Linked DNA regions of Homo sapiens. The protein of the gene in region 3 purifies or fractionates together with the protein of the main gene of each other region. This does not show direct contact. Each region holds a gene or a part of one and is shown on either strand. Other genes may lie near its edges.

The links. The genes of interacting proteins can lie anywhere in the genome.
Region 1: the proteins of ZNF747 (region 3) and PKN2 purify together in Homo sapiens (co-immunoprecipitation; 2 studies listed by BioGRID and IntAct, with this or other methods). This does not show direct contact.
Region 2: the proteins of ZNF747 (region 3) and MRS2 purify together in Homo sapiens (affinity purification with mass spectrometry; 2 studies listed by BioGRID and IntAct, with this or other methods). This does not show direct contact.

What each region holds. Positions count from the first base shown.
Region 1 is NC_000001.11:88,799,268-88,806,293, forward strand, and holds part of PKN2 (serine/threonine-protein kinase N2), read left to right. Parts: exon of another isoform or gene 1-4,524; intron 4,525-5,123; coding exon 5,124-5,267; intron 5,268-5,578; coding exon 5,579-5,654; intron 5,655-6,229; coding exon 6,230-6,404; intron 6,405-6,623; coding exon 6,624-6,750; intron 6,751-7,026. UniProt on the Homo sapiens protein: PKC-related serine/threonine-protein kinase and Rho/Rac effector protein that participates in specific signal transduction responses in the cell.
Region 2 is NC_000006.12:24,412,931-24,419,956, forward strand, and holds part of MRS2 (magnesium transporter MRS2 homolog, mitochondrial isoform b precursor), read left to right. Parts: intron 1-2,085; exon of another isoform or gene 2,086-2,102; coding exon 2,103-2,233; intron 2,234-3,466; coding exon 3,467-3,583; intron 3,584-5,153; coding exon 5,154-5,306; intron 5,307-5,530; coding exon 5,531-5,648; intron 5,649-7,026. UniProt on the Homo sapiens protein: Magnesium transporter that mediates the influx of magnesium into the mitochondrial matrix and regulates magnesium metabolism. Also permeable to calcium, sodium and potassium ions.
Region 3 is NC_000016.10:30,531,838-30,539,120, reverse strand, and holds the start of ZNF747 (zinc finger protein 747), read left to right. Parts: upstream 1-4,262; 5' UTR 4,263-4,441; coding exon 4,442-4,670; coding exon of another isoform or gene 4,671-4,810; coding exon 4,811-4,924; intron 4,925-5,969; coding exon 5,970-6,622; 3' UTR 6,623-7,283.

The sequences.
Region 1 (7,026 bases), on a different chromosome or scaffold from region 3:
AGTCTCCATTATCTCTGTCTCCTACTGTTGTCTCTGTATTTCTCATCCTCCCATATGATCCCAAAGTTTCCCTCTTTTTGTCACATTTGTTCCAGCTGGAGAATCACTCTCATTGGACTGCTGAACTGAAAACATATATTATTGTTTCTTGAGGTGGTGGTTTTCTGTTTTTCCCCAGTGGATTCCATTGTCCTTCCTTCCCTGTCCTACCCTGTTTTTGGGCTGATGACTACAAAGTTCACTTGAATTACTTGGCTCTGACTTACAATGAGAGACACTGTTAAGAGATCCAAGAGCTAGGAGGAAAGGAAAGTCGCAGTGTGTATTTCCCTTTCTCCTTCCTTGCCTTGCCTTGCTTTTCACAACAGCATTCATCTATGGCCACCAACTCCTGTCGGGTAGTTCCTTTTTTAAGATTTAGTCTAAATCAGATTCTGGCAATGATTTAAGTTCCTCTTGCCCCTTCAGGCTAAGAGTGATAATGGATTTCTACTGTTGCTTGTCCTCAGATTCTTTTCATTCCTTGTTGGTTTAACTTTAATCACATCTCCATAAGTAGCCAATTTAAAAAACTCTCTTTAGTTAAACTCTTTCAGTGTACTATCTGCATGCTGCTAGGACCCTCACTGATAAATTTCCAAAGCCTATGTTGTCCTCAGAGGCACATTGAAGACCAATATCATCGCTCGTGTACACGTTTGCAGAAATCTCATCTTTCCTCAGCTCTTGAATTTTCCAGGTATTGAGTTTATTCTGTTTTTTAGTGGCAACAGAAAGCTTTTTTGACCTTTCTTTTCTTTTTGGCGGTGGAGCCTGGTTCTCATTTTCTTCTTTTGCCCTTTTCATTTCAGCAGTGGAGCCCAGCTCTCCACTTCTATCAAAGTTTCCAGACTTTCTCAATTCAGTGTCCTCAGTGTCCTTGTAATGTTTCTGCAGTGTGTCCCTAGACCTAAAGAAATACCCAACAGTTCCATTTATTAAGAAGTGCTTACTAGTTAGTATTTTAAGTCTTAAAACAGGAGTTTTTGAAAAATACAAATACTGAGAGAAAACGTAATATTTTTATTCCATTAGTACATGATTACAATTAACTAATGGGACATGTCTGCCTGTTGTACACTATATAACTTCCCACATCTTGGGATCATAAGGATAACTGCACTCTCATGTCTTCTTCCACAGTGATTCTTCATAGGAAGTTGCTTTTTATTGTTGAAAACCCACCTTAGCAAAGATGGGTTTATGACATCACCAGAAGGAATATGGAATATTCTAATGTTGAAACTATGAACTACCTTTCGCTAGTAGTTCTCACAGTGTCCCATAGATGTCGCTGTGTTCCCTATGAAAAGTGAAAATACTCTCTGGCACCCCAGGGCTCCTCAGTGAACACTTCGAGAACCTCAGCATTCTTTGTGCTAATTCTTTTATGATAGATGTGTACTGTTCTTTTTTCAATTGCAATACATGTTTTAATTTGTTGCTTTCTACCACACATAAGGCTGATGCAGTGTCTCTTACCTTTTTTGTTTACTTTCAGATCTTAGACTTCAGATAAGACATGCAGATTCTTTAAGTCTACCAAGCAGTTTTCTCTTTGATTCTAGATTCAATTCATAATAAGACAAACTGAAACACAAGTTGGGACAGTACCTATCTCAACTTGTACTGCTCAGCTTTTTTTGGTGGTAGTTTTACTCCGTCTAGAATATCGTTGCTCCTAGAGTTTGAAATTATCTAACAGCATGCCCTTGCCTTGTGTAACTGACCTGCTTCATCTAGAAAATTGCCGGCGTACCAGCAATCACACTTGCATTTTAAATTCTAAACATTGGGCCAGGCACAGTGGCTCACGACTGTAATCTCAGCACTTTGGGGGAGCCAAGACGGGTGGATCACCTGAGGTCAGGAGTTCGAGACCAGCCTAGCCAACATGGCAAAACCCCATCTCTATTAAAAATACAAAAATTAGCCATGTGTGGTGGTGGGTGCCTGTAATCTCAGCTACTCAGGAGGCTGAGGCAGGAGAATCACTTGAACCTGGGAGGCAGAGGTTGCAGTGAGCTGAGATTGCACCATTGCACTCCAGCCTGGGCAATAAGAGTGAAACCCCATCTCAAAAAACAAAAAATAATAAAAAATAAATGGTAAACATTAGTGACATCTTCTTATGCAGAAGCTTCAGTCTATCTGTATGGTACCTTGTTTTTCAGATACCATGTGACTGTTTTACTTATTCAAACCATGCTGGATGTTAGGATTTAAAGTGGGATTGAACACAAGTGGTGGAGTACTAACATAAAATATCTCTAGATCACAGCCCCACCCTCCCACTTATGTTGTGAAGAAAGTAACGCTCACTGGGAACAGTGCAAAGTAACAAAAAATGAAGAGCTTTATATGTAAAATGTTAGAAACAGATAATCGGTGCCGTGAAGAAAAGTCAGCACGGAGACAAAGGATCTCTCAGCAAGGCAATCTTTACTTTCTGCAGAAAGCGTGCCCCTCGCAAATGGAACAATCGCGAGAGCACACCTGAACAAAGGAAAAGCAGACATATATATCCCTTATGCATTTGGGTTGTCCTTACTGCTGTGTCCTGCATCCATTGGCTGGAGCTGGACCTCACAGTCTTAAACTGATTACTGATTTGCTAATAACCTAAAACTTTCCTAAATAGGTAAATGCAAAGGAGAACAAAGAGGAAGAGGAAGTTGCTTATGAAAGGTTTAAGGAAGCAACAACATTTCCAAATAAGGAAGGGGCATAAGCTGTGAGCTAAGACTTGCCTGGGCCTGTCCAGACATGCTTGAGTAAGCCAAAGCAACTAACTGGGCTAAAGCGTAAGAACTGATAGTTGATAGGAGGCTTTAGAGTAAGGAGCTATTATTCCTAGTGTCTTTTATTTTATTTTTAAATCAAGATGAGCTTTGAAGAGGAACTTTTCTACTTTCTACATAAAACTTTAATGTAGAGTATAGAATTCTAGGAAAGCTAGCTTAAGGTCTGTGAGGTGACTTATCCCAAATCTCAGATCTGTAACATACTTTATAAATTTTAATTTTTTTTTTTTTTTGAGACAGGGTCTCGCTCTGTTGCCCAGGCTGGAGTGTAGTGGCATGATCTTGGCTCACTGCAACCTCCACCTCCTGGGTTTAAGTGATTCTCATGCCTTAGCCTCCCAAGTAGCTGGGACCACAGGTGCGTGCACCACGCCCGGCTAACTTTTGTATTTTTAGTAGAAATGGGGTTTCACCATGTTGGCCGTTGCTAGTCTCGAACTCCTGACCTCAAGTGATTCACCCACGTCAACGTCCCAAAGTGCTGGGATTACAGGCATGAGCCACCTTGCCCAGCCTATAATGTACTTTAGTTTGAAGCATGGAATGAAGAGACAGAGGAAAGAGAAATTAGTCAATATGTTAGTTTTACCAGACTGGCTGGAATAAATAGCAAATGAGGTGATTGGACCTTCTCTTATTCACAATAAGACAAAATCTTACCATTTTAGCCAGTGTAAAAGTGTAATAAGAACTTTTAACAAGTATTAATTCTGTCTCTAGCGTATGTGCATCTTGCATCTTCCTGATGCATAACAAGTCTTCCTTGTAACAGTGGAAGAAAGCAGGAGAAAGTAGACCTCTCTTCCTCCAATCTAAAAAAATGGAGTCTAAATTACCAATCCTGACATGATTCTTCCTCCAGTTTATTTCACAAAATAACTGCTTCCAAAATACTTAACACTTTTAACTTCAATAGAATATTATAGCCTTAGTACCCCATCCCTTCTATATGCCATTTGCTAGTCTTAATTATATTCTCCTCATACTTCTTTCATGACAGTTCTCTCCCATATTAATTATGAGTCAGAGAGAAGAAATGAGGTGGAAGGCCCTGAGATCACATTCTCACTGCCATAGACGTATTTTTCTAATTCTTTTCCTGTTTGACTGTGAAACCCTCTGGCACATTGTATTTTGATTCTTTTCATGTTGCATTTTTTATAAGTGTTTTTCGTGTTCATTAACATCAACTAGATATATAATTTAAGGTCAATAGATTTTTTTTTACTGTTTATACCAAAACGTTACATAATGAAATGCATAAGTTTATAAATTGAAATTTGTTATATAAAATAAGTAATTTATTGCTTTGTAGAGCCTTAAAAGGAGAAACATTTATCTCTTTTTGTGGATGGTGTACAGAAGCCTGAAAAACAAAATAATAGAAAAGTCCAGTACTTTATGATTAAAATGTATATACGTTAAAACATATAGGTAGAGGTCAGTATATGGTTTGGCCACAGCTTAGGAACTATGTTCTACAGGTGCATTTAAACACTGGTTATTAAAACCTTAAATATATTTCGCCACATAAGCATTATTTTCAGTGTCTACTGTGTATTCTCTCATACGGCTTTGGTATAATTAACTTGTCCCTGGTTTTTGAACATTCAAATTCTTGCTAATTTGCTTTTTAAATTATGTTTTATTGTTATAATAAATGAATATCTTTCTGTATAAAGCTTGGTCTGAATTTCCCCTTTCTTCCTTTCGTACGCAGAATGGGTCTTGCTACCCAGTGGTATTCTTTTGAAAATTAAATGACCTAATATTCTTAAAGTGCTTATTAGCACAATATGTGGCACATTGTGAGTACAGAATAAATGCTATTTGCAGAACTTTTTCTGGCTTAGCAATGAGACAAATAAATACAAAGGTTTCAAATGAGTTATTTGAAGCAAGCATTGGGGTAGTAACATAGCACATGATGGCAAATAGAGGAGGGAAATCTGAAAGATTGAAGCTCTAAGAGAAGGAGTTTCGGTGGTTATTCATCTGTATTGGTTGTTCCCAGTTGTGTATTCTTTAAGTATACTTTAGGAATACCTTAGCTGGAAAATGTCACAATGTAAGTTTTGTTTCTTTGAATTAAAATGTGTAAGTTTGATAAAGTACTATACAGTTGAGAAATGTTACAAACCTCTTTAAAACAGTGTGACCTTTGTGTGTGTAATTTTTGTTTATTGTATTTGTATTTCATATTTTTTGTGATATTTTATTCAAGTGTGTGTCCAATGATGTCTTTTCTGTTTTCTTTATTATTTTTTTTAATTATCCTAGTCACGTGAACTGGAAATTTCAGTTTATTGGCGTGATTGGCGGTCTCTGTGTGCTGTAAAATTTCTGAGGTTAGAAGATTTTTTAGACAACCAACGGCATGGCATGTGTCTCTATTTGGAACCACAGGGTACTTTATTTGCAGAGGTAATAAATGTATTTTATTAAATGTGCATAACTACAATTGAAATTACATATGTAGGCAGCATAATATAGAAGTAGAAAGAGTGTTAGGCTGAAAGACAGATGACTTGAGTTCTTGGCTGAGCTATGCCACTGAATAGGTATGTGACTTTGAGACAAATCAATTATTCTTCCTATGTCTGTTTTCTCATGTAGAAAATGAGGGGCTGGACTAAACTGTAACTAAGATTCTCTTAAGCTTTAAAATTTTATAAATTTAGTAGATTTCATGAACCATGCTATTTTCATGTCAACTTGAATTTTCTTCACTGCAGGTTACCTTTTTTAATCCAGTTATTGAAAGAAGACCAAAACTTCAAAGACAAAAGAAAATTTTTTCAAAGCAACAAGGTAATTACTAACAATCAAATGCATAGCATTTTGATATTTTCTTAAACAATCTAATTACCATTTAAAAAGTAATAGCCATCTGTGTGGGTTTTTTTGTTGTTGTTTATTCATTTATTTCTAACTTCTTATTAAGGAATATTTTAAATGTATCCATAAGTGGAGAGACTAGTGAAATGTACAGTCACCCGGCTTCAACAATAATCAACTCATGGCCAATTTTATTTTATCCATATGCCATCCTCTCACTACTTTCTCAAATTTGAAGCAAACCCAGACATCATATTGATGTATTCATAATTATTATAATTTATATCTAAAAGATAAGATTTATTTTTAAAACCTTACTACTAGACTTAAAGAGAAAAAAACAATTTCTTACCTATTTATTTTTAAAACTACGTATGCTATTTTGCATTAGCCTTTACTAGCAAATAGTAAAAAACTAGTTTTTTTAAGTGACAAATTTTGTTTGTTCTTCGTAGATTATAAACTAATGGATAAGAATTTTTAAATTATGACTTTTGGTTATACATAAAGAAATTACTTGCTGTTTTTGTTTTTTTCAACATCTACAGGCAAAACATTTCTCAGAGCTCCTCAAATGAATATTAATATTGCCACTTGGGGAAGGCTAGTAAGAAGAGCTATTCCTACAGTAAATCATTCTGGCACCTTCAGCCCTCAAGCTCCTGTGCCTACTACAGTGCCAGTGGTTGATGTACGCATCCCTCAACTAGCACCTCCAGCTAGGTATGTGTCTGAGATTTTAAGCATCTCTTATACAAAGTTATTGGGACATTCTTACGTACTGATTATAGCAGGTGTACTGAGTCTTGCTTTTTTCCCAAGTAGTATTTTGAAAGTAGTGTTCTGTTTACTTAAAAAGTAAATTGTTTGCTTTAATTTTAAAGCTGTTTAAAATACAGACTTTCTATTACTGTTTTGGTGAGTTACTTTATCTTCTATAAGTGATTCTACAGTAACCAAATTGGACTTTGATCTTGAGCCTGAACCTCCTCCAGCCCCACCACGAGCTTCTTCTCTTGGAGAAATAGATGAATCTTCTGAATTAAGAGTTTTGGATATACCAGGACAGGCAAGCCATTTTAAACCTTGCATAATTCCTCTTCACTGAATGAATTAGCAATAAAAGCATCATAGTGAATAAGGCGTGTCTTTCCATTTAAAATTGCCACTGAACTGTGAATTTATGGTTTTTTGTTTGTTTTTTGTTTTTGTTTTTGTTTTTTGAGACAGAGTTTCACTCTTGTTACCCAGGCTGGAGTGCAATGGCATGATCTCGGCTCACTGCAACCTCCGCCTCCCGGATTCAAGCGATTCTCCTGCAAGCCATTCTCCTATCTCAGCCTCC
Region 2 (7,026 bases), on a different chromosome or scaffold from region 3:
GCATACTAACCAGAGTGGGAGGAGGAGAGAGGGTAGAGAGGACATGAGGTGCATTGGGTTGGGTGAACCTGGCACACTTTTCTTTTGTCTGCCTTGCTCTGAAAGAATAGATGGCTACACTTCCTGCTTGGGGTAATTAATGAGCACCAGCTAGCACCAGCCAGTGAGATGATAAGTAGTGGGAGCCCAGTTACCAAGCAGGGGGAAAGCAGAAGAGAGAAAGAAGATGTAAACAGTGGTAAGTCATGGGCTCCACAGGCTGGGTAAGCTCTCAGGAGCTCATGCTGTTAGGAGAAAGACAGGGATCTTAAAGGGAGCAGGAGGGGAAGGAGAGAGGCTAGGCTGGCATGGGTCTCCGGCCTAGAGATTGGCTGTGGGGAGAATAGAGAGGGAGTTCAGGATGTCTGCTGGGATACACATTCTTCTTCCTTTAAATGGGGTCCCAGGAAGATTTCCTTACGAAACAACACTACATAGAAGCAAGACCAGCCACCTCTCAAAAGGGATAAGTTTTCGAACAAGGGAAAGCTCCCCAAACCCACCTAAGGGACCAAGACATACCATGAGTAGATATGCCTCACAAATACCCTATCTGTGACCCTCAGCAGCCTCCCCAACCACTACAAAAGTCCACACCTTGCTGAGCAGAGGGTTTGATATCTCTTAGATTAAAAGATGTGGTCTGCCTATTTGGCTGTCCAGTCTTCCCTCCCACCCAAGGACTTCTTAACCCGGAAGCAGTTCCTCTGGAGACGAAATAAACAACATGTCTGCAGAGGCACTGTGACTCTGGACTTGTTTCCAAATAAAAAAATCTGTTTCACAGTAATTGTGCTTCTGAGATAAAGACTATATGCTGTAATTTACGTCATCAGTTTTACCGCTTGATTTAGTTAGTATATGCTATTTGCCAACTGGCATGGAAGTGTTTCAGTATTTTAACAACTATATAGCAGGATTAGTGCATACCTGCCGAATATCAAATATCAAACCATACTTGTGTTAACCTAAATAGTCTATTTTTGACTTTACTCTGATATGTTTATGTTTTAAAGCTCAAGTTTTTATTTTCAAAGAGCTTTGTAGGAATTTTGAACCATATTCTGTTTACAGAGAACACAGGTATTACTGAAAGCTTGTGTTTTAATAATAGCAGATTTTATTTTACTTGATCCCTCATTACTTCATAATGAATGTCTATAGGAGAAAGACTTTTTTTTTTAAATTTTTTTAGTATTTATTGATCATTCTTGGGTGTTTCTCGGAGAGGGGGATTTGGCAGGGTCATAGGACAATAGTGGAGGGAAGGTCAGCAGATAAACATGTGAACAAGGGTCTCTGGTTTTCCTAGGAAGAGGACCCTGCCGCCTTCCGCAGTGTTTGTGTCCCTGGGTACTTGAGATTAGGGAGTGGTGATGACTCTTAACGAGCATGCTGCCTTCAAGCATCTGTTTAACAAAGCACATCTTGCACCGCCCTTAATCCATTTAACCCTGAGTGGACACAGCACATGTTTCAGAGAGCACAGGGTTGGGGGTAAGGTTATAGATTAACAGCATCCCAAGGCAGAAGAATTTTTCTTAGTACAGAACAAAATGGAGTCTCCTATGTCTACTTCTTTCTACACAGACACAGTAACAATCTGATCTCTCTTTCTTTTCTCCACATTTCCCCCTTTTCTATTCGACAAAACCGCCATCATCATCGTGGCCCGTTCTCAATGAGCTGTTGGGTACACCTCCCAGACGGGGTGGCGGCTGGGCAGAGGGGCTCATCACTTCCCAGACGGGGCGGCCGGGCAGAGGTGCCCCTCACCTCCCGGACGGGGCGGCTGGCCGGGCGGGAGGAGAAAGACTCTTACGAGAGTTAGCTCCTTGTCAACCAAATCTGTGCCTAAAGATAACATCATACATAGTTCTTTGAACCCAGAGGATCTAGTTTTTGAATCATCTGGAATAGGCATTCTAGAATTATCTATGTTCTGAAATGTTACCAGCATTTCAAGCTACTACAGATTTCTGTATTTAATCAGAGGATTCACTGATCCTGAATATTCTAAAAAGATTGTTTTAATTCTTATGAAAGGTCATGTTGTTATCTAGATCAACACCCTTCAGGGGAAACTTAGCATTTTGCAGCCACTGATCCTTGAGACCTTGGATGCTTTGGTGGACCCCAAACATTCTTCTGTAGACAGAAGCAAACTGCACATTTTACTACAGAATGGCAAAAGGTAAATATGGATGATGTATCACATTGGGAGTTGGAGACAAATATCTTAAAATCAATTATTAACATTTTGTTTCATAACTTTTTTTAAAGTATGAAAGTAGCCTAGGTGGGAAGTTGAGCTAAAAGGGGCACACAATCTACTGTTTGTTGAAAAGATACTTTGCATGAAATGTCATGTAAGGCTCTTTTCCGTATGTGATCTCATCTCATCACCCATTCAATAGTTGATATTGTCTTCATTTTGAAGATGAGAAAATTGAGGTTTGAGTAACTTGCCTAAATTTATATGGCTAGTAAATGGCAGATCTAAATCCAAATTCAAAGTCCATGTTGTTCTTTTTCTTTAAAATCATAATGCATTCCAGAATTTAATAACAATATTATATATGTATCATAAATAGAATAAACATGCTCTCAGGAGTTATACTCCCGAAATCCCTTCAAGAATTAACATTTAAAATTCCTGAATCAGTAGTTTCTTATCCAAAAATGTTGGAGTGTTTTTATCAGTTAAGAGTAACTAGTCTGTTCTATATTATCACTGCCATGTTGATTAATAAAATTCCCAAACCAAAAATCTTAAATTCACAAGCGATTTATGTTTCTGAGATAAGTAATGTATGATGAAATTTATATCACTGATAATTTTACCAATTAATTTAGATCTGGTTTGGGTTTTTTGTGGGTGTTTTTGAGACAGGGTTTCACTCCGTTGCCCAGGCTGGAGTGCAGTGGTGCAGTCTCAGCTCACTGCAGCCTTGGTTTGGGTTTTTTGTGGGTGTTTTTGAGACGGGGTTTCACTCCGTTGCCCAGGCTGGAGTGCAGTGGTGCAGTCTCAGCTCACTGCAGCCTTAACCTTCAGCAATCCTCCCACCTCCACCACCCAAGTAGCTGGGACTGCAGGCACATGCCACCATGCCCAGCTAATTTTCTAAATTTTTTTGTAGAGACAAGATCTCACTGTTGTCCAGGAGGGTCTCAAACTCCTGAGCTCAAGCAATCCTCCTGCCTTGGCCTCCTAAAGTGCTAGGATTACAGGCGTGACACCATGCCTGGCCAAATTGATTCTTAATTTGCCTGGTAAATACTCAACTTTTTTTTTTTTTTTAAATAAGTCATTGTTTAGCATGAATGTATAAGATAATATATTTGATAAGATACTCTAAAAACACTATTATGAAATGTTCTTATAAGTTTATTCTATTGATCATTTTTGTGTATCTATTTCTTATAGTCTATCAGAGTTAGAAACAGATATTAAAATTTTCAAAGAGTCAATTTTGGAGATCTTGGATGAGGAAGAGTTGCTAGAAGAGCTCTGTGTATCAAAATGGAGTGACCCACAAGTCTTGTAAGTATATAATTATACTTTGTTATTTATTTCCTTAGAGTAAATCTTTTGCCTTTTCCACTTCAAGGTGATTTTTCATACAGAATGTAACATTTTTCTGGACTACAGAATATAGAGATTTTTCATCCCCAGTTTCCCTTTTTTCCTGTGCAGTATCGTATCTAATTCAATGTAATTCTATGAGTATGCATACTGCATACCCAACACTGCTGACATGTGGTGAATATAAACACACAGTTACCTTTATATTCAAGGGACTGACCACCAGATTGGCATATACATCTACCAAAATAACTTACCTAGGAAGCAGAGTGGGAGAGAAATTTACATGGGGGAGGGAAAAGATGGGGTAAATACACGAGTAACACATTAACATGGATTATGTAAGTTCAGTCTAATGAAAATGTTAATCTTATAAACCTTTTATCTTTTATGAATTTAGAAATTGTTTATGCTTCTTGTGCACACTCCAGCTAAATGTTTACTTTTAAATACCCAAATATTTTGTTATTGTCTTTCTAGAGCAGTATCAGAAATTAATACACCTTTGTAATGAGTTTAGTTTCCACAGTCTGTACAGATTTTCTTACAGCACTTTGAAAAATTGGTTATTTATATCCTGATAAGGAAATAATAAGATAAAGGGGGCTATATAACATTTGGTAGATAGCCGATAGGTATGGTAGCAGAAACTGTTTGCTTTGCTTAGGCCAATCTGTCAATCTGTCTCTAATATGCTTTATGATACAGGTACCTCTTCAGAGTACTTCATTCCCCCTTACCCTTCTTGGTAGGGTAGGGGAGCAAAGTTATTACTGATATCATTCAAAAACATTTTCTTTATATGAAATCACATTATGTACACACCTCAAAAGGAAATGGTCTTGACATTTTTAGTTGTGGATTTTGTTTTACCTGATAGTGGTATTGGCTTTGCACTAATTCATCTGCATTCACATATCTGGATTTTCCTGTAACTGGCAGCATGTATCTGCATAAAAATCTCTTGGATTGGGGCCATGTAATACAGTGACACCAACTGGTCTACATAAGGATGGAACCTCTGTCCTCAACTCATCTGTAAAGTGTTTTGGATCAGTTGACATAGGTACTCACAGATTGGCCACAACAATAGAAAAGACAAAGGCAGCCAGGCGCTGTGGCTCATGCCTGTAATCCCAGCACTTTGGGAAGCCGAGGCAGGCAGATCACAAGGTCAGGAGTTCGAGACCAGCCTGTCCAATATGGTGAAACCCCATCTCTACTAAAAATACAAAAATTAGCTGGGCGTGGTGGCGGGCACCTGTAGTCCCAGCTACTGGGGAGGCTGAAGCAGGAGAACAGCTTGAACCTGGGAGGCAGAGGTTGCAGTGAGCCGAGATCGCGCCACTACACTCCAGCCTGGGAGCAGAGTGAAACTCCATCTCAAAAAAAAAAAAAGACAAGACAAGACAAAGGCTAGCTTTTCCACTGGTAGCTGAATGCTATATACTAATTTAGGAAGTTTTTGTCACTAAGTATATGATACACATGTTGGGAGTATGTTAATTATTTTCTCTTTTAATTGAAGTGAAAAGAGCAGTGCTGGGATTGACCATGCAGAAGAGATGGAGTTGCTGTTGGAAAACTACTACCGATTGGCTGACGATCTCTCCAATGCAGCTCGTGAGCTTAGGGTGCTGATTGATGATTCACAAAGTATTATTTTCATTAATCTGGACAGGTAAGAAAGCATTATATAAAACTAAGTTTTTTTAATAAAATAATTATAAGAAAGTTTTTAAGGAAATATTTTGTGAGGAATTACGCCATCATTATCATCTATACTACATTATTATTATTTTTTTTGTTGTGTAGGTTTCATCCATGTGGTCTGTATAGATTTGATGAATGTGCTGTATATAGTTAGTGGGCCCTTCTAATCTGAATAGGTGTTCTCCTCTCCAGCCACCGAAACGTGATGATGAGGTTGAATCTACAGCTGACCATGGGAACCTTCTCTCTTTCGCTCTTTGGACTAATGGGAGTTGCTTTTGGAATGAATTTGGAATCTTCCCTTGAAGAGGTGAGAATGTATTATTATTTCTAAAACTTGGGGGTTTTGGCCGGGCATGGTGGCTCATGTCAGTAATCCTAGCACTTTAGGAGGCTGAGGCAGGTGGATCACCTGAGGTCAGGAGTTTGAGACCAACCTGGCCAACATGGCGAAACCCTGTCTCTACTAAAAATACAAAAATTAGACAGGCACGGTGGCAGGCACCTGTAATCCCAGCTACTTGGGAGGCTGAGGCAGGAGAATCACTTGAACCCGGGAGGCGGAGGTTGCAGTGAGCTGAGATCGCGCCGTTGCACTCCAGCCTGGGAGACAGAGTGAGACTCTGTCTCCAAAAAAAAAGATTGGGTTTTGAAGATCGATATTTTTAATGGATTTAAAAAATAAAGGCTGGGCACCTTGGCTCAACGCCTGTAATCCCAGCACTTTGGGAGGCTGAGGCAGGTAGATCACGAGGTCAGGAGATCGAGGCCATCCTGGCTAACCCGGTGAAACCCTGTCTCTACTAAAAATACAAAAAATTAGCCGGGCGTGGTGGCAGACGCCTGTAGTCCCAGCTACTCCGGAGGCTGAGGCAGGAGAATGGCATGAACCTGGGAGGCGGAGCTTGCAGTGAGCCAGGATCACACCACTGCACTCCAGCCTGGGCGACAGGACAGAGTGAGACTCTGTCTCAAAAAATAAATAAATAAAAAGTCTAACCTGTAAACTACCATGGTGAAATAAAATATATAATGTAACTCACAATTCAGGCAGTACTGTTGGACCATGTTATAACCTAGATAAATACAGCCTAGGTTACTTTGTTTCCCAAAACATATAATTACAGATGGGAAAGGTGTGATAAAACAGTGTCTCTGTGAAGCAGTGTTAATGAAGAGTTTTTATTTTTTAATTCTTACATGTCTGGCAACGTACCAGGCGGTTTGCATACTTTATTTGGCTCAATCATTGCAACTCTGAAAATAGATATATTATCCCTACTTTGTAGATGAGAAGACTGAGGCTCAGAACATTTAACTTGCCCACAGGCATAGAGCTGGAAAAATAACAGAATTAGGACATGACCCCAAAGACTTGCACTTTCTACTGCTCTGTTGCCTTTCTGTATTAAGATAATACTTAACTCCCAGAGTTTTTCATTTCACTGTGGTTTTGTACAGTCATCCCTCAGTATCCAAGAAGAATTGGTTACAGGATCCCCACAGATACCAAAGTCTGTGGGTATTCAAGTCTCTGATATAAAATGACCCAGTACAGTCAACCTTGCATATCTGCAGATACAGAACCCACTGACTGTGTTTTCACAGAATAGCTTATTGTAAGTTTTCTAGAACTGAACCTGGATGTGCATCTGGCACAGTGTGATGCTGGATTCTGTGTCCTCATT
Region 3 (7,283 bases):
CCCCTGGGCAACAATGAATCCTTATGCCCCTCCCAAACTTTTTGCCTCCTCTCCCCAGGGTGAGAAAATAGCCCTTAGAGGCCCCAAGGGACCAGAATAAACACACTTAACAAAGTAATCCATATCTTCCACCTGTTTGATGCCCCCCCAACCCACACAGATCTCCCCTTGAAAATTTTACTGCCCTAGCCAGATTTTCTTCGTCCTGTCATTTCTTTTAAAATTTATTGTTCTTGGCCAGGTGCAGTGGCTCACGCCTGTAATCCCAGCACTTTGGGAGGCCAAGGTGGGTGGATCACCTGAGGTCAGGAGTTCAAGACCAGCCTGACCAACATGGTGAAACCCTATCTCTACTAAAAATCCAAAATTAGCCGGGTGTGGTGGTGCATGCCTGTAGTCCCAACTACCCGGGGTGCTGAGGCAGAAGAATCGCTTGAACCCGGGAGGCAGAGGTTGCAGTGAGCAGAGATTGCGCCATTGCACGCCAGCCTGGGCAATAAGAGCAAAACTCCATCTCAAAAAAAAAAAAAAAATTATGGTTATTTAAGAAATACAGGCCGGGCGTGGTGGCTCACACTTGTAATCCCAGCACTTTGGGAAGCAGAGATGAGCGGATCACGAGGTCAGGAGATTGAGACCATCCTGGCTAACACGGTGAAACCCCGTCTCTACTAGAAATACAGAAAAATTAGCCAGGCGTGGTGGTGGGCGTCTGTAGTCCCAGCTACTCGGGAGGCTGAGGCAGGAGAATGGCGTGAACCCGGGAGACAGAGCTTGCAGTGAGCTGAGATCGCGCCACTGCACTCCAGCCTGGGTGACAAAGTGAGACTCCGTCTCAAAATAAAAAAAGAAAGAAATATAATGATCAGTAGCTGCACCACTAGAAAGATGGCAGAGCAAGAGCACAGAAAAATTCCTTTGGTTCCAGAAAATCTCCTGAAAAATAGGAAGGCTTATCAAGCCCTCAAAGCCACCCAGGCAAAGCAGGCATTTTTGGCAAAGGAGCAGAGGAAAGGAAAAGGGCTCAGGTTTAAGTGACTGGAATCATTCCTACATGATTCCTGGCAGGAGAAACGTGACAAGGTGCATCTCAAGACAACTAGAAGTGCAACCTCACGCCTTGGAATTGCCGGATAAATGTTCCTTGGCCTTTGTTGTACGCATCAAAAGGATTGATGGCGGGAGTTTACTGGTGCAGAGAACCATTGCAAGACTTTGCCTGAAGAAAATTTTTAGTGGTGTCTTTTTAAAAATGCTGCGTATAGTGGAACCTTATGTGACCTGAGGATTTCCAAATCTGAAGTCTGTCTGGGAATTCATTTTGAAACATGGACAAGCCAAGGTCAAGAATAAGACCATCGGCCAGACGCAGTGGCTCACGCCTGTAATCCCAGCACTTTGGGAGGCCAAAGATGGGTGGATCATGAGGTCAGGAGATCGAGACCATCCTGGCTAACACAGTGAAACCCCGTCTCTACTAAAAATACAAAAAATTAGTCCGGCGCGGTGGTGGGCGCCTGTAGTCCCAGCTACTTGGGCGGCTGAGGCAGGAGAATGGCGTGAACCTGGGAGGTGGAGCTTGCAGTGCGCCGAGATTGCACCACTGCGCTCTAGCCTGGGCGACAGAGCGAAACTCTGTCTCAAAAAAAAAAAAAAAAAAAGAATAAGACCATCCCTCTGACAGACAACACAGTGATTGAGGAGGACCTGGGGAAGTTTGGCGTCATTTGCTTGGAAGACCTCATTCATGAAATTGCCTTCCCAGGGAAGCATTTCCAGGAGATCTCATGGTTCTTGCGCCCTTTCCACCTTTCAGTGGCCCGTCATGCTACCAAAAATAGAGTGGGCTTCCTCAAGGAGATGGGCACACCTGGCTGTGGGGGTTAACGCATCAATCAGCTCATCTGCCAGCTGAACTAGACCCAGGTGCCAAACCGCAGTAAATTTTTATCAATGAAGTGGAAGCATGTGTTTTTGTTGTTTTGGGAATTTTTATCAAGTACTTTCAGAGAAGATTATTTCCTGCTTTATCTTCAAAAACTGGAAAGGGTCAAAGAAAAGACAGTAGCTTGCTGGGCACGATGCCTCACGCCAGTAATCCCAACACTTTGGGAGGCTGAGGCGGGCGTATCACCTGAGGTCAGGAGTTTGAGACCAGCCTGACCAACATGGAGAAACACTGTGTCTACTAAAAATACAAAAATTAGCTGGGAATGGTGGCGCACGCCTGTAATCCCAGCTACTCAGGAGGCTAAGGTAGGAGAATCACTCAAACCTGGGAGGCGGAGGTTGCGGTGAGCCAAGATCGCGCCATTACACTCCAGCCTGGGCAAAAAAAGTGAAAGTCCGTCTCAAAAAAAGAAAAAAAAGACAGTAGCTTATGTTCATGGCAAGCACCTCTCATCACAGTCCAGTTCCAAGGAAAAATTCCAGCGTTTTCTACATTGGGTGCCACGTCGCCTGAAATCAGCACATTCCATGGAGGAAGTAGTACTTCTCTGTTGCATCTATCCTAGGGTTTAATGTTGGTAAATGAGTCACTCTAGCATTTGCACAAGGCTCCTTAAGACTCCTGCAGCAGTCGACCAAGCCCAAGGACATAATTGAATCTGGAGAGTCCTGGGGCCTTGTTTTGAAAAAGACTTGAAATACACATAGGAAGAAAGACATAAAAATAAATGTTCACTTGTCTCTGCAAAAAAAAAAAAAAGAAAAGAAATATAAAAGCACCTGGCTTCAGCCACTTTTTCTGACTGCTCTCTCTTGTGAAGATGCCTGAGTACATGTAAAACAGGTACAATTTGTATTCTTTCCTCCTGTTAGTCTGTCTGCTGTCGATTCATTTTTTCTTATTTATTTTTGAGATAGGGTCTCCTAAGTTGAGCAGGCTGATCTCATTCTCTTGGACTCAAGGAATCCTCTTGCCCCGACCTCCCAGGCGCCAGGATTACAGGCGATTCTCAATCTGGGCCTAGATTCAACTAAAGAACCCACTAAGAGCTAAAAGGCGCGTTGGAGGTGACTCTGACTCCAGTACACAGGACATGTATGAAGTCACGTGGAGCACAGAGTAGGCCATCAGGAAGTGTGAGAAGGAGGTCTCAGGGGAGAGCTGGCGACTTTTACTGAGATAAAGACCCCAGGGGAAGCAGGTTGGGGTAAGAAAGGGATGAGCTGGGTTTGAGCCTAGGAGCCTTGGGCCATCCGCGCAGGGGCAGGACGTCAGGGAAGCCAAGAGCCTGGCTGCAGCTAGAGGGAGACAGGCGGTCGGGAGGCGTCCTGCACAGCACATGGGAGAAGCTCCTAGAAGAGAGGGCCCTCTGACTTTCTCAGCCTTACCCTATTCTCCCCGCTGCTTCCGCCATCTAGAAGCTCCCAGAATTTCAAGCTCCAAAAAGCCTACAATAGAGGAGGTTCTCCTGTATCCACTCCATGGCTTTTGTGAAAGGAAAATAAATCTTGGGACCCCCCCAAATCACTACGCTAAAGGAAAAAGTCAAGCTGGGAATTGCTTAGGGCCAACCTGCCTCCCAGTCTATTCAAAGTCACCCCTTTGCTGGCTGACACAGATGCATATCTGATTGCCTCCTTTGGAAACGCTAATCAGAATCTCAAAAGAATGCAACCGTTTGTGCCTCACCTTCTGTTTCTTGGAAGCCCCCTTCCTGCTTCACGTCTTCCTGCCTTTGCTTCAAGTTGCCCCGCCTTTCCAAACAGAACCAATGTACTTCTTACATACATTTATTGATGTCTCATGTCTCCATAAAATGTATAAAACTAAGCTATGCCCAGACCACCTTGGGCACATGTCGTGAGGACTTCCTGAGGCTGTCACGCGCGCGTCCTCAACCTTGGCAAGTAATTGAGATCTGTCTCGGAATTTCTGGGTTCACACTTTTTGCTCTCAACATTGGGAAGAGGCTGCTGTCGCCGTTTCTGAGGACAAAACGAGACAGTGATGGGCTGAAGTCCGATTATAAAAAGGTCCAGAGACGAAAACTAACTTCTGAGTTCACGAGGGCTGCCTTCCGCAGGGCGCTGCTTTGTTCCCGCAAACCCGGGCGGAAGCTCTGAGCTGCGCCGCCTCACCTGGCGGGGCCGGAGCATGCGCGGCTGGTTTTCAAGGCCGGCGCCTGTAGCCGCAACGGCCATTTTGGATTAGGGCAAGGAGAGAACTGGGCCTGGAGCGGGGGCGCGGGGAGGGGGGCGTCGTCGTGGGTACAATTGCGCAGGGGCAAAGGTCGAGAGGTCGCGCTGCCGCCGTTTTATTTGAAGACATCGTCCAGTTCTGACCATGGACTCGCAGCCATCGGCCCTTAGTTTCCATCCCCTCTAGTGGGCCTTCGGGGGCTCTACTGACGTCCCTCCTTCCCTTGGTACCGGGCCGGGGAAGTGTTCTCGGGCGCGGGAGGTTCCGCATGCCCAGGCCTGGCCAGGGGAGATGACCGATCCGTCGCTGGGGCTGACAGTCCCCATGGCGCCGCCTCTGGCCCCGCTCCCTCCCCGGGACCCAAACGGGGCGGGATCCGAGTGGAGAAAGCCCGGGGCCGTGAGCTTCGCCGACGTGGCCGTGTACTTCTCCCGGGAGGAGTGGGGCTGCCTGCGGCCCGCGCAGAGGGCCCTGTACCGGGACGTGATGCGGGAGACCTACGGCCACCTGGGCGCGCTCGGTGAGAGCCCCACCTGCTTGCCTGGGCCCTGCGCCTCCACAGGCCCTGCCGCGCCTCTGGGAGCTGCGTGTGGAGTTGGGGGCCCCGGGGCCGGGCAGGCGGCCTCCTCGCAGCGTGGGGTTTGCGTTCTTCTCCCCCAGGAGTCGGAGGCAGCAAGCCGGCGCTCATCTCCTGGGTGGAGGAGAAGGCCGAACTGTGGGATCCGGCTGCCCAGGATCCGGAGGTGGCGAAGTGTCCGACAGAAGCGGACCCAGGTGGAGTATCGGGTGCTCAGTCCCATGGGGACTTCTCTGTTCCTGTCCCATCCCGGTACCCTCTGCCACCTCCAGCTACCTGCTTAGCAGTTTCCTCTCTGAACTGCCTCCTCAACTGCGGCCAGGAGGCTGAGCCCCTGCCTGGCTCCGGGATGCAGCCTAGAAAGGGGCTGTGATGGGGGCTCTGGCCCTGCCATACCCGCCCCTGAGTCCTCACCTCTGCGTGGTCACTACACTCCGGGGACTTTTTTGTTTTGTTTTGTTTTAGAGACAGGGTCTCTGTTGCCCAGGCTGAGGTGCAGTGGCGCCATCATAGCTCACTGCAGTCTTGAACTCCCGGGCTCAAGCAATCGGCTCAACCAATCCTCCCGCGTGGGCCTCCAGAGTACCTAACACTGTAAAGGCACTCGCCACCACGCCTGGCTGGTTTTTTTTTTTTTTTTTTAATTAAAAAAATTTTAAAGAGGTAGAGGTCTTGGTGTGTTGCCCGAGCTGGTCTCGAACTCTAGCGATCCTCTATCTCGGCCTCCCAAAGCACTGGGATTACAGGCATGAGCCACTGCACCCGGCCTCTAGGTTCTGTTGACTCTACCTCCACATCATGACCCGCTCCAGTCGTTTTCCTGCACTATGGTTCCTATGCCCCCACATCCCGCCCTCCCATTTCCTTCCTTTAGTTCTTGCCTCAGCTTTTGCAGAGTATCCAGCCCCACTGAACTTGGCCATGCCCTCCTGGTTCTGCCTTTCTTGGTGCTGTTCCTTCTGCCTGGAATATCCCCAGGTGTCCGCTTCTTATTCCAGATCAGGCCCAGATGTTCACGTCATCTCTGCCCTTCCCCCGCGGTGACATTTCCCCAGCCCGGAGGCGGAATGGACTGTTCCCTCCCTCCAGGCTCTGTCTGGCTCTGCAGCCGAGGAACAGGTGTCACTCCTCCATCTCCTAGGAGCAGTCGGGGGTCCAGCAGGCCTGTCCCTGTCCACGCGGGCTGTGGGATTCAATGACCAGGATGAGCCAAGCCTGAACTCTCGCCTCCTTATCTTTCAGCAGATTCCAGAAACAAGGAAGAGGAAAGACAAAGGGAAGGGACGGGAGCCCTGGAGAAGCCCGACCCTGTGGCCGCCGGGTCTCCTGGGCTGAAGGCTCCCCAAGCCCCCTTTGCCGGGTTGGAGCAGCTGTCCAAGGCCCGGCGCCGGAGTCGCCCCCGCTTTTTTGCCCACCCCCCTGTCCCCCGAGCTGACCAGCGTCACGGCTGCTACGTGTGCGGGAAGAGCTTCGCCTGGCGCTCCACACTGGTGGAGCACATTTACAGCCACAGGGGCGAGAAGCCCTTCCACTGCGCAGACTGCGGCAAGGGCTTCGGCCACGCTTCCTCCCTGAGCAAACACCGGGCCATCCATCGTGGGGAGCGGCCCCACCGCTGTCCCGAGTGTGGTCGGGCCTTCATGCGCCGCACGGCGCTGACTTCTCACCTGCGCGTTCACACTGGCGAGAAGCCCTACCGCTGCCCGCAGTGTGGCCGCTGCTTCGGCCTGAAGACCGGCATGGCCAAGCACCAATGGGTCCATCGGCCCGGGGGCGAGGGGCGTAGGGGCCGGCGCCCTGGGGGGCTGTCTGTGACCCTGACTCCTGTCCGCGGGGACCTGGACCCGCCTGTGGGCTTCCAGCTGTATCCAGAGATATTCCAGGAATGTGGGTGACGGCCTAAAAAGTGACCATCTAGACATTGTGGGCGGCCCGAGATGGGCTCAGGGGCCCGAACCTCTGCAGCGGCCTGCAGGGAGGTCCCAGAATCCACCGCAAGAGCTGGCCTGGGGTGCGGACAGTCTGATCTTGGGCTCTCAGCAGCCTCTTCTGCCAGCACCTTGCTCCCCGCTGCCCTGGGCTCTCCAAGGCCCCCTTTGCTGAGGCAGGGCTGAGGTGAGAACCCCCCAGACCTCCATACAGGGAAGCAAAAGCTGTTTCTCCTCCCAGAGATGCTAAGAGGATTGAGGTAGAGAAGAACCTTGTTTTCTCTGTTGTCTTTTTCTTTTTACTTTTTTAATTTTTTGAGACGGAGTTTTGCTCTTGTTGCCCAGGCTGGAGTGCAATGGTGCGATCTCGACTCACTGCAACTTCCACCTCCTGGAGTCAAGCGATTCTCCTGCCTCAGCCACCCAAGTAGCTGGAATTACAGGCACCTGCCACTATGCCCGGCTAACTTTTTGTATTTTTAGTAGAGATGGGGTTTCACCATGTTGGCTAGGCTGGTCTCGAACTCCTGCCCTCAGGTGATCCACCCACCTCTGCCTCCCAAAGTGCTGGGATTACAGGCGTGAGCCACCTCACCTGGCCTTTTCTTTTTTATTCTTTGACCTTCCC